2 separate regions of the Homo sapiens genome follow, and region 1 is linked to region 2. A link means that fine-mapping ties the variant in region 2 to the plasma level of a protein whose gene starts in the linked region. Region 2 holds a variant in brackets. A gene starts in the other region. All regions are shown on their forward strands.

Region 1 (5,304 bases), not on the chromosome of region 2:
AAAAGAAAAAAGCAGAAACTTTGACCTGCTAATTGATGGAATCAAGTCAGACAAATTCTAATGTGGCCACTTCTTTTCACTGCCATCATGGAAACCTAAAGCCCTGGGTAGGTTCCTTGCCACTGCCCTGTCTATTTCTAGAAACATGAAAGACCTGGGCTAATGTCCTACCTGACAGCCATTAGCTGACTGGTCACAGGGTAAGTCCCTGCACCTCTGAGTCTGTGTTTCCTCACTTCCTAAATGGGGACAATAATACCAGCAACTCCCTAGTCACCTCACAAATTTAAATATGATTATGTATTGGTCAATCTCCCTCCTCCCCCATTAGAATCATCAGGGAGTGGTTTGTGGGGAGGCGGGAAGGGGTGTTGTCTTAAAATAAAATGTGCTTTCAATAAAATACCTTGGCATCCCATTTTTAAAGCCTTCTTAGGTGACTATGATTTGCAGTCAAAGTTGAGCACCACTGATGGAGTGGAGTGAGTTTGTTTTGAGCAAACGCCTAAAGGTGTGGAATGGGCTGGGAATAAGAAAATGGTGAACTGGGGTGTATCTGCCTTAGCTAAAAGAGGGCACTGCTTCTGTTTTTGCTCAAAGAGTGCAGGCCCACAGTGTCACTGGATCTTCCCATTTTTCAAGAAAAGTTAGAGATTTACATTTTAAAGTAAAATCTAAATTTTAAAATGTTGGTAACAAATTCAAATTTATTAAAAACAAAACAGAACTTTGTGTAGGCCAAACCGGTCTGTGGGACATATTCAGCTGATGGGCCACCAGCCTGTGATAGGTGGTTTGAAGAAAGATGAACCTGAGATGAAACTAGGGGTTTGCCCGCTGGCTTTAAACAAGTTACTTAACCTAGGTAGGCCTCAAGTTCTTCATCTGCAGAATGGGGTATATAATACCTACTTCAAAGAATTAATAGAAGAGACAACGAATGGAAGGCAAATGGAAAAGTGATTAATCAAGCATCAGTTTCTTGCATCCTGTCTTTATCAACAATGTTGTACTTTCAGAGTTGAACTCAAATGTGAGAGCTTTGTCAAAAAGACCCTCCATCAAATCAGGCTCCATTCCTGGACTCTGTGTGTCTCCGGCCTCCCAAGCTGGGTGTCTGTGACCCCATCCCTGAGACAGCAGAGATCCATCAGAGTTGTAAGTGTGGCCCTGCACCAGAAGGTGGGCAAAGGGCGAGGAAGAGATACACCTTCAATCAGCTCTGCATCTTACTGAGGAGCCACTATGCCTGTGGAGGCCTAAAGACTGCAGTAATCATTGTAATCGTCCATGATATTGTACGTTAGCGTCTTGCTGCAGGAGGGAAAAGCTTAATTCAGGAAGGGTAAGAGAGTGAGAAACCCTGAAGTCACATATTAAAGTGCTTAAGTACCTAACAATCTCTATGCCCTGTAAAACCTTTAAGAATAGGAGCCCAGGCAGGGCGCGGTGGTTCACGCCTGTAATCCCAGCACTTTGGGAGGCTGAGATGGGTGGATCACGTGAGGTCAGGAGTTTGAGACCAGCCTGGCCAACATGGTGAAACCCCGCCTCTACTAAAAATACAAAAATTAGCCGGGTGTGGTGGCACGCACCTGTAATCCCAGCTACTCGGTAGGCTGAGGCACGAGAATCGCTTGAACCTGGGAGGCAGAGGTTGCAGTAAGCTGAGATAGCGCCACTGCACTCCAGCCTGGGCCACAAAGTGAGATTCTGTCTCAAAGGGAAAAAAAAAAAAAAAGAGAATAGGAGCACAGTTAATAGAGACACTGGGCCCCAAGACGACTGAGAACCACTCACGGATGAGAAGTCCTCGGGCTGCTGGCAGAGAATTTACCCCAGGTGCGTGGCCCAGTGGCGGAGGCTTGTGGGAAATTCCTGGTACCCAGCTGCCCAACATCTGGGACGCTGCAACGCCCACCTACCTGCCTGCGCGGCAGAGAAGCAACAGCCGTTCGAGCCACGCTCCACTTCCCGGGAAGAATTCTGGGGAGAGTGAAGGCTCGCTCTGTGGCCGCCCCGCCCACAGCCCGCCTGGGGAAGCCGCGGGCCCCAGCTCACCTGCAGGTTGCTCACGGAGAGCTGCAGCGGGCTCAGGTAGAAATAGGGCACGCCGCTGCCCGCGCCCGGGGGCCCGTCGCTGAGCGAGAGGACGTCGGCGAAGGGCCGGCCGCGCACCGCCTCCAGCGTGGAGATGGTGGCCAGAGCGCCCCAGTCGGAGACGTGCGTCACGAAGCGGGCCACGCGCGCCGCGTCCTCGCGGGGTGGTAGCGGCGGCAGCCGGGAGGCCTCGTCCCAGTCCCCGTGGTCCCGGCCGCCGCGACCCCGCGCGGGCGACACGAGCAGCGCCAACAGCGTCGACGCCAGCAGGGCGGCGAGCAGTGCGCGCGCGGACCCGCGGGATAGCCCGGCCATGGCGGTGTCTCCAGGAAGAGTCCCGGGCCCCAAGACCTGCAGGGACCCAGCCGGAGCTCGGCGCGCCCAGGCCCCGCCCCCTCCGCGAGGCGCCAATCAGAGCTAAGCACAATGCAGGGGGCGGGGTCCCTCTGCAGCTCCGCAACCTGCAGGAGAAGGGATTGGTTCATCTGCATTCCAATCGCTCTGCCTGCCCTCTTTAAGGATTGTGAATTTGTCCTAAACGGGATATTTGTTTTGTTTTGTTTGACAGGCGGAAAAAGAAAGGCTTGAAGAAATCAAGCAACTTGCCCAAATCGTACTGCTAGGAAAAGACCAGCCTCTTTACACAGGCACACACCCCCTCCTTTTAATACCTTTGGAGATGAATATCTGGCATCTGAGAGGAAATGCTGCATTTTCTACCCATGCGCCTCTTTTCTGTTGAATTTACCATCAGCTCCAAAGAACAGCGAGGGTCCCAGCGTTGTAGAAGCCCAGACTCAGGCTCGTGTACCCCATGTGTAGCTGATGCCAAACACTGACATATAGGTGCTTGGAGATAAAAGTTTATTCGATTTGGCCAAAGCGAGAAGGCGGGAGGGCAAGATCTCTCAAATCCGCCCTAACAAAAAGAAGAAGCAGAGAGTGTTTATGCGGCCAGCGAGTCAGGGAGGGGGAGTTTCAGGGAATCGAGGGAAAAAGTCTGTGTTTCTTCAGTCTCAGATAATTCCTTGAACAATCAGACTTCTGGGCGACAGAAGCTGGCCTCAAAGTACTTCAAAGGACTTATTCCTCCTGCAAACTTTTTCGTAACCCTGAAGTTATTATCTCCTCCTGCTTGATAAAGAAACAGTACATCAGCAGTTTATGATTATGTTGTAGGAACAAGGGATATTGGGCAAAAAGAGAGTTGTCAACATGTGCAAGCAAGGGCCTGATCAGAATTTTCATTATTTCAGTCACTAACAAATGCTGGGGTGCTGAAATCTCAAGGGGCCCACTTACACTAGTAGTAAAGTTAGGCAGAAGCCCGAAAGTTCAAGACCTTTAAAAAACTTTTTATTTACTTATTTTAAAATTTTTAATTTTTGTGGGTACATAGTAGGTGTATACATTTATGGGGTACATGAGATATTTTGCTACAGGCATACAATGCATAATAGTCATATCAGGGTAAATGGGGTATCCATTGCCTCAAGCATTTATCCTTTGTGTTACAAACAATCCAATTATACTTTTAGTTATTTTAAATGTACACTTAAATTATTATTGGCTATAGTCACCCTGTTGTGCTATGAAATACTAGGTCTTATTCTAACTATTTTTTGTACCCATTAACCATCCCCACTCCTCCCCTGCAAGTCCCCCCACTACCCTTCCTGGCCTCTGGTAACCATCCCTCTACTCTCTGTCTCCATGAGTTCAATTGTTTCCATTTAGGCTCCCACAAATAAGTGAGGATGTGTGAAGTTTGTCTTTCTGTGCCTGGCTTATTTCACTTCACGTAATAACCTCCAGTTCCAACTATGTTGTTGCAAAGACAGACAGGATCCCATTCATTTTTTATGGCTGAATAGTACTCCATTGTGTATATATACCACATTTTCTTTATCCATTCATCTGATGATGGACACTTAGGTTGCTTCCAAATCTTAGCTGTTGTGAATAGTGCTGCAGTAAACACAGGAGTGCAGACATCTCTCAATATACTGATTTTCTTTCTTTTAGGGATATACCTAGCTGTGGGATTGCTGGATCATATGGTACCTCTATTTTTAATTTTTTGAGGAACTCCAAATTTTTTTCCAAAGCGGTTATTCTAATTTACATTCCCACCAACAGTGTACAAGGGTTTCCTTTTCCCCACATCCTCACCAACATTTGTTATTGCCCGTCAAGACCTTTTAAACTACTGGCCCAGGAGTCCCTCATATAGACGCACAAAGGGATTGTTAGTCTACTATCAATATCCCATGTACAAATTTGAACTTACCAGTTCAGGACCTGTTAAGACATTAAGCTTGGGGTCGGCGGTTTCATGAATTTATTGCCCCCGCTGCCCTTCCCTGCTCCATGTAAGGGACATTCCTTTTGCTTCTTCTAAGATGGCCTGTCTCATTCTCTCACGGGTGCTCCTGATTCTGCTATTCTGGAAACTGGTCAATAAGCTCATAGCACCTGGCCTCCATTCTTTATGACTTTAAGCTTTGGTCACGTCTTTTTGGAGCAAGTCTTAATCTTTTTGGCCTGGCCTCAAATTTCCACTGTAATTGTTGTTATAAAGACTGTATGGTGGTGTTAGTGCAAGAGTTTGTCATCTTGTAAAGCTGGCTCTGGCAGACACCTGGCCCTGTGAGGCTGAGTTGTGTAACAGAGGTGAGGTAATTTCACTCAGCTGCTGTTGGCCAGTCATGTGAGCAGCCGTGGGCAACAGGTGTGTGAGCCAAAGTCCCACCGCTACTTCCCTTCTCAAAACCAGCCTCCTAATATTCAGCCAACTTCTCAGGCTACACAGTAGGAATTGTGTATCAGAAGAAGCAAGATCATCTACTCTGAACAGGAGACTTCAGTGCCCTCTGGTGGCCAAATGATGTCACACACCCTGATTTCGACATTGGGGTAAGAAGGATCCTTAATCAAAGTTGGTTTGCTTTATAACAACTGAATTTGGAAGAACTTCAAAATAGATGGAAAACTAAGTGGGAGAAATTCAAAAGGAGGAAAATTGGGTTCATCATTTTAAAAACAAATGATTAATACAAATAGTTTGAGTACCTGCCGGTTATAAACATTTCATCCCTTACCTGTTAAGGAAAGAATACTCTCACATTTGGAGTTCTAATCTCAGGTCTGCCACTATCGTGCCATGTGACCATGGGATTTTATCTTACCTTTGGGCCTCAATTT
Region 2 (5,380 bases):
TTGAGGCATCACACTACCTGACTTCAAAATATACCACAGAGCTATAGAAACTAAAACGGCATGGTGCTGGTATAAAACAGTCACAAAGATCAATGGAAGAGAATAGAGAATTCAGAAATAAATCCACAGATTTACAGCCAACTAATTTCTGACAAAAGTGCCAAGAACATACGATGGGGAAAGGACAGTCTCTTTAATACATGGTGCTGGGAAAAAGGATTTCCATATGCAGAAGAATGAAACTGGACCCCTACCTCTCACCACATACAAAACTCAATCAAAATGGATTAAAGACTTAAATCTAAGACCTGAAACTTGAAACTACTAGAAGAAAATAACTGGGGAAATTCAGGAAAATCATCTGGGCAGAGACTTACGGAGTAAGACCTAAAGAGAATACACAGCCAAAGATAAATGGACAAATGGGATTACATCAATCTAAAAAGCTTCTGCACAGCAAAGGAAACAATCAACAAAATGAAGAGACTACCTACAGAATGAGAAAAATTATTTGTAAACTATTCATTTGACAAGGGTTTAATAATCAGAATATATAAGGAACTCAAACAACTCAATGGCATAAAAAAACCCAAATAATCTGATTTTAATATTGGCAAAATATCAGAATAGACATTTCTCAAAAGAAGACACATGTAAGTGGCCATAGGTATATTTAAAAATGCTCAACATTACAAGTTATCAGGGAAATGTAATTAAAACCACAGTGAGACATCTCACCTTAGTCAAAGTGGCTATTATCAAAAAGACAGAAAATAAGAAATGCTAGCAAGGACTTGGCAAAAAGGCAATGCTTGTACTCTGTTAGTGGGAATGTAAATTAGTATAGCCACTATGGAAAACACTTTGAAGATTCCTCAAAAAACTAAAAATAGAACGACTATATGATCTAGCAATCCCACTACTGGGTATAAACCCAAAAGAAAGGAAATCCGTATAATGAAGAGCTATCTACACTCCCATGTTTATTTCAGCACTATTCACAATGGCCAAGATTTGGAGGCAAGCTAAGTGTCCATCAATGGATGAATGGATAAAGAAAATGGTTTATACACACAATGGGATATTATTCAGCCATAAATAAGAATAAAATCCTGTAATTTGCAGCGCATGGATGGAACCAGAGGACATGATGTGAAGTAAAATAAGCCAGGCACAGAAAAACAAATTGCATTCACATTTCTCACTCATATGTGGGAGCTAAAAAACTGATCTCATGGAGGTAGAGAATAGAATGGTGGTTGCCAGAGGATGGAAAGGGTAGTGGGGGCAGTGGGGATGAAGAGTGATTGGCTAATAGGTACAAAAATAGTTAGATAGTCCTGGTGTTCGACAGCACAAGAGGGCAACTGTAATTAACAATAATTTATTGTATATTTCAAAATAGCTAAAAGTGAAGATCTAGAATGTTCCCAACACAAAGAAATGATACATGGTTGAGATGATGGATATCCCCATTACCCAGATTTTATCATTCCACTTTTTTTTTTTTTTTTTTTTTTGAGACAGGGTCTCACTCTGTCACCCAGGGTGGAGCAGTGGCACAATCATGGCTCAATGTAGCCTCAATCTCCTGGGCTCCAGTGATCCTCCTACCTCAGCCTCCAGAGTAGCTGGGACTACAGGCACGTGCTACCACACCTAGCTAAGTTTTGTATTTTTTTGTAGAGATGGGGTTTTGTCATGTTGCCCAGGCTGGTCTTGAACACCTGAGTTCAAGCAACCCACCCACCTAAGCCTCTCAAAGTGCTGGGATTCAGGTGTGAGCCATTGCACCCAGCCTGATCATTACAGATTGTATGCATGTATAAAAATATCACATGTACTCCATAAATGTGCATAACTATTATATAGCCATAATAATTAAAAATTAAAGTAATTAATTTTTTAAATAGCTAGCCAAGGTGACACATGCCTACAATCCCAGCTATGGGGAGGCTGAGGTGGGAGGATCACTTGAGCCCAGGAGTTCAAGACCAGTCTGGGGAACATAGCGAGATCCTGTCTCAAAAAATAAAAATATCAAAAAAGCTTGTGGATTCTGAAGCATTATACTTGATGTGGGATTTTCACCCCGTCTCCTGTTGCCCGTTTTCCCCCACCTGCAATTCATCTTCCACATTACCTCCAGAGCAACTGTTCTAAGCACAGATTTTATTTCATCACTCTCTTCCTTAAAATCCTTTGATGGTCCCCATTTTCTTCAGGATGAATTCACATTCCTTAGTACCACCCAGCAGGCAAGTCCTAAACTGGCCCCTGCCTGCCTCTTCGGCTTCATTCCCCTGTCACTCCAAAGATGCTGCAGCCCTTTAGAACTACTTTTGTTCTTAGAAGTTAATAATGTCTCATATCCATACCTTTACACCAATGGCATCTTTTCCTTAAGAAACAAAACAAACAAAAACACTCCCCTTCCTTTACTCAGCCATCTCCTTCCAGACCAAGCTCAGGTATCACACCATCTGAGAAAGTGTGCTTGGCACTGCATTCATCACAACACATTTCAAGTTTGCCTACTTGCCTGTCCACCTCCCTGCCTGGACTATGAGTTCCTCCAGAGCAGAAAGCAACTTAAATATATTTGTGT[CT/C]TTTTTTTTTTTTTTTTTGGAGACAGAGTCTTACTCTGTTGCCCAGGCTGGAGTCCAGTAGCACGATCTCGGCTCACCACAACCTCCATCTCCCAGATTCAAGTGATTCTCCTGCCTCAGCCTCCCAAGTAGCTGGGATTACGGGCACCTGACACCACACCCGACTAATTTTTGTATTTTTAGTAGAGATGAGGTTTCACCATGTTGCCAGGCTGGTCTCAAACTCCTGACTTCAGGTGATCCACCCACCTCAGACTCCCAAAGTGTTGGGATTATAGGCCTGAGCCACCGTGCCCAGCCCTTTGTGTCTTTAGTCAACAGTAGACAACCTGGCTAATATAGTTTGCCTGTGTCCCCACCCAAATCTCATTTTGAATTGTAGCTCCCATAATCCCCATGTGTCATGGGAGGGACCTGATGGGAGGTAACCGAATCATGGGAGTAGGCTTTTCCCATGCTGTTCCTGTGATAGTGAGTAAGTCTCACAAGATCTGATGGTTTTATAAAGGGCAGTTCCTCTGCACATGCTCTCTTGCCTGCTGCCATGTAAGATGTGCCTTTGCTCCTCTTTCCCCTTTCACCATGATTGTAAGGCATCCCCAGCCATGTGGAACTGCAAGTACATTAAAACTCTTTTTCCTTTTTTTTTTTTGAGACAGAGTCTCGCTCTTGTCGCCCAGGCTGGAGTGCAATGACACGATCTTGGCTTACTGCAACCTCCACCTCCCAGGTTCAAGCAATTCTCCTGCCTCAGCCTCCCAAGTATCTGGGATTACAGGTGCCCGCCACCACACTTGGCAAATTTTTGTATTTTTGGTAGAGACAGGGTTTCACCATGTTCGCCAGGCTCGTCTTGAACTCCTGACCTGAGGTGATCCACCTGCCCCGGCCTCCCAAAGTGCTGGGATTACAGGCATGAGCCACCATGTCTGGCCTAAACCTCTTTTTCTTTATAAACTACCCAGTCTCGCGTATGTCTTCACAGCAGTATGAAAATGGACTAATACACTGGCCCAAAGTGAACACCTCCATAAGCCTGTCACATGAACAACTTCTGAAAATTTGCTTTAGAAGCTTTATCTAATTGGGAATTAATGAGAGACAGAAATGAAGTGAGAAAATGAAGGGGGGGAAAAAGGTTTATCAAAGGAAAAAGAAAAACTAGAATCCTAAAAAAATGAAGCAATTTTGAGAAGTAATCTTAAAGTGGGCAATATGGTTTTTAGTCTGATCATAGAATGAGTTTCACTCCCTGAATGAGTGTGACCTGACCTGGTCTTTCTGAAAGATCACTTTTTCCTGTGTAATTTAGTATGCATACGAATCACACATAGGCTGACTAATCAACTGCTGAAGATTCTGCATCTGTATCGCAAGATGAGAACAATCTAAAGAACAGCAGAAATTTTAAAAAGATATATCATGAATATATATAATCTATTATAGTTACACCTGTTATATTTTAGAAGGAACTATAGGAAGCCTACATATATTAGTATACAGTACAAGCTATATTAAATAAAGGACTTGCTCCCTCTGATTTCATAGCAATCATAACACAGCACACCAAGGTCAAGAAATCACTGTGAGTTCTCCTGTTCTGTATTTAAGGAAAGATTAAGAGGCATAAGCTCACAGGGTGGTCTCCTGTCCTTTCTTCATGAGCACTCTGGCCACATGGAAAACAATCCTGAGATGGGACAGTTGGCACTTAATTAGCTGAACGCCTAGGACCAGCCTCTACGCAAGATGTCTTACATACATTAGGCACCTCACTTAAACTACTCTTCCTAAGTTCAGTCACAATCAGCAACAAAAATAAATTTTGATGCTTATAAGTATTCATTCAACAAATATTCACTTAAGAACTACAAGTAGGGTCTGCGAGAGCAAATGAACTTGTCTATCTCGCTTACTTTTGTATCCCAAGATGTTGGTGGAGTGCCTAGCACATAATGGAACATAAGGACTGGAGGATTTTGCCTCTTAAGCCTCTTGAATCTGTCCATTTCTCTTCCTATGTCCTTCCACTGACCTAGTCCCAGGCCAGTCCTGTAGACTAACTGCCCTGCAGCCATTCTTGCCCCTTCTAATTCCGGATTTCTCAACTTCAGCACTATCGACATTTTGGGCTGGATGATTCTTTGTTGTAGGGGCTGTCCTGTGCACTATAGGATGTTTGGCAGGATCCCTGGCTTCTACCCACTAAATGCCAGTAGCATCAACCCCATGCCATGCCCCAGCTGTATCAACCAAAAATGTTTCTAGACATTTGGCAAAATCACACCTAGCTAAGAACCACTGTCCTAGAGCTGACTTGACCTCCTCTGTCCTCAGCCTCAGCAATTCTTACCCTCTACGGTTGAACTCAAACAGCATCAAGCAAGAAAGCATCTCCCAGCTGGGCACAGTGGCTCACACCTGTAATCCCAGCACTTTGGGAGGCCGAGGTGGGTGGATCACCTGAGGTCAGGAGTTCAAGACCAGCCTGGCCAACCAGTGAAACCCCATCTCTATTAAAAATTTAAAAAGTTGCTGGGCGTGGCAGTGCAAGCCTGTAATCCCAGCTACTCAGGAGGCCGAGGCAGGAGAATCACTTGAACCCAGGAGGTGGAGGTTGCAGTGAGCCAAGATAGTGGCCACTGCACTCCAGACTGGGCGGCAGAGTGAGACTCCGTCTCAAAAAAAAAAAAAAAAAAAAAAGCAAGCATCTCCTGATCCCCTGCCACCAGACCAAACTGATTCTCACTGCTGGTCTCTTCCACAACGAT

Direction of the effects. Alleles are on the strand shown, and positions count from the first base shown. The strength of an association depends on the size of the effect and on how common the allele is.
For the plasma level of the protein whose gene starts at base 2,436 in region 1, allele CT in region 2 goes with a higher level than allele C (strong association).

The links. PIP is the posterior inclusion probability: the model's chance that the variant is causal. The UK Biobank Pharma Proteomics Project read protein levels with antibody pairs (Olink). The fine-mapping took linkage between variants from a reference panel, not from the people measured, so its PIPs are less certain.
Region 1: CREG1 starts here. The variant in region 2 is fine-mapped to the plasma level of the CREG1 protein (UK Biobank, PIP above 0.99).

Annotation. Positions count from the first base shown.
Region 1 is chr1:167,551,327-167,556,630 of GRCh38, forward strand. CREG1 (cellular repressor of E1A stimulated genes 1) reads right to left here and starts at 2,436. Exons shown (of 4, transcript NM_003851.3): 1 at 2,062-2,436. The coding sequence starts at 2,415. RefSeq lists a silencer at 2,125-2,574.
Region 2 is chr12:101,815,768-101,821,147 of GRCh38, forward strand. The region is part of intron 1 of GNPTAB (N-acetylglucosamine-1-phosphate transferase subunits alpha and beta); the gene reads right to left. Among named protein-coding and RNA genes, the nearest start is that of GNPTAB, 13 kb to the right of the region's middle. The variant CT/C (reference allele first, on the strand shown) is at 2,609.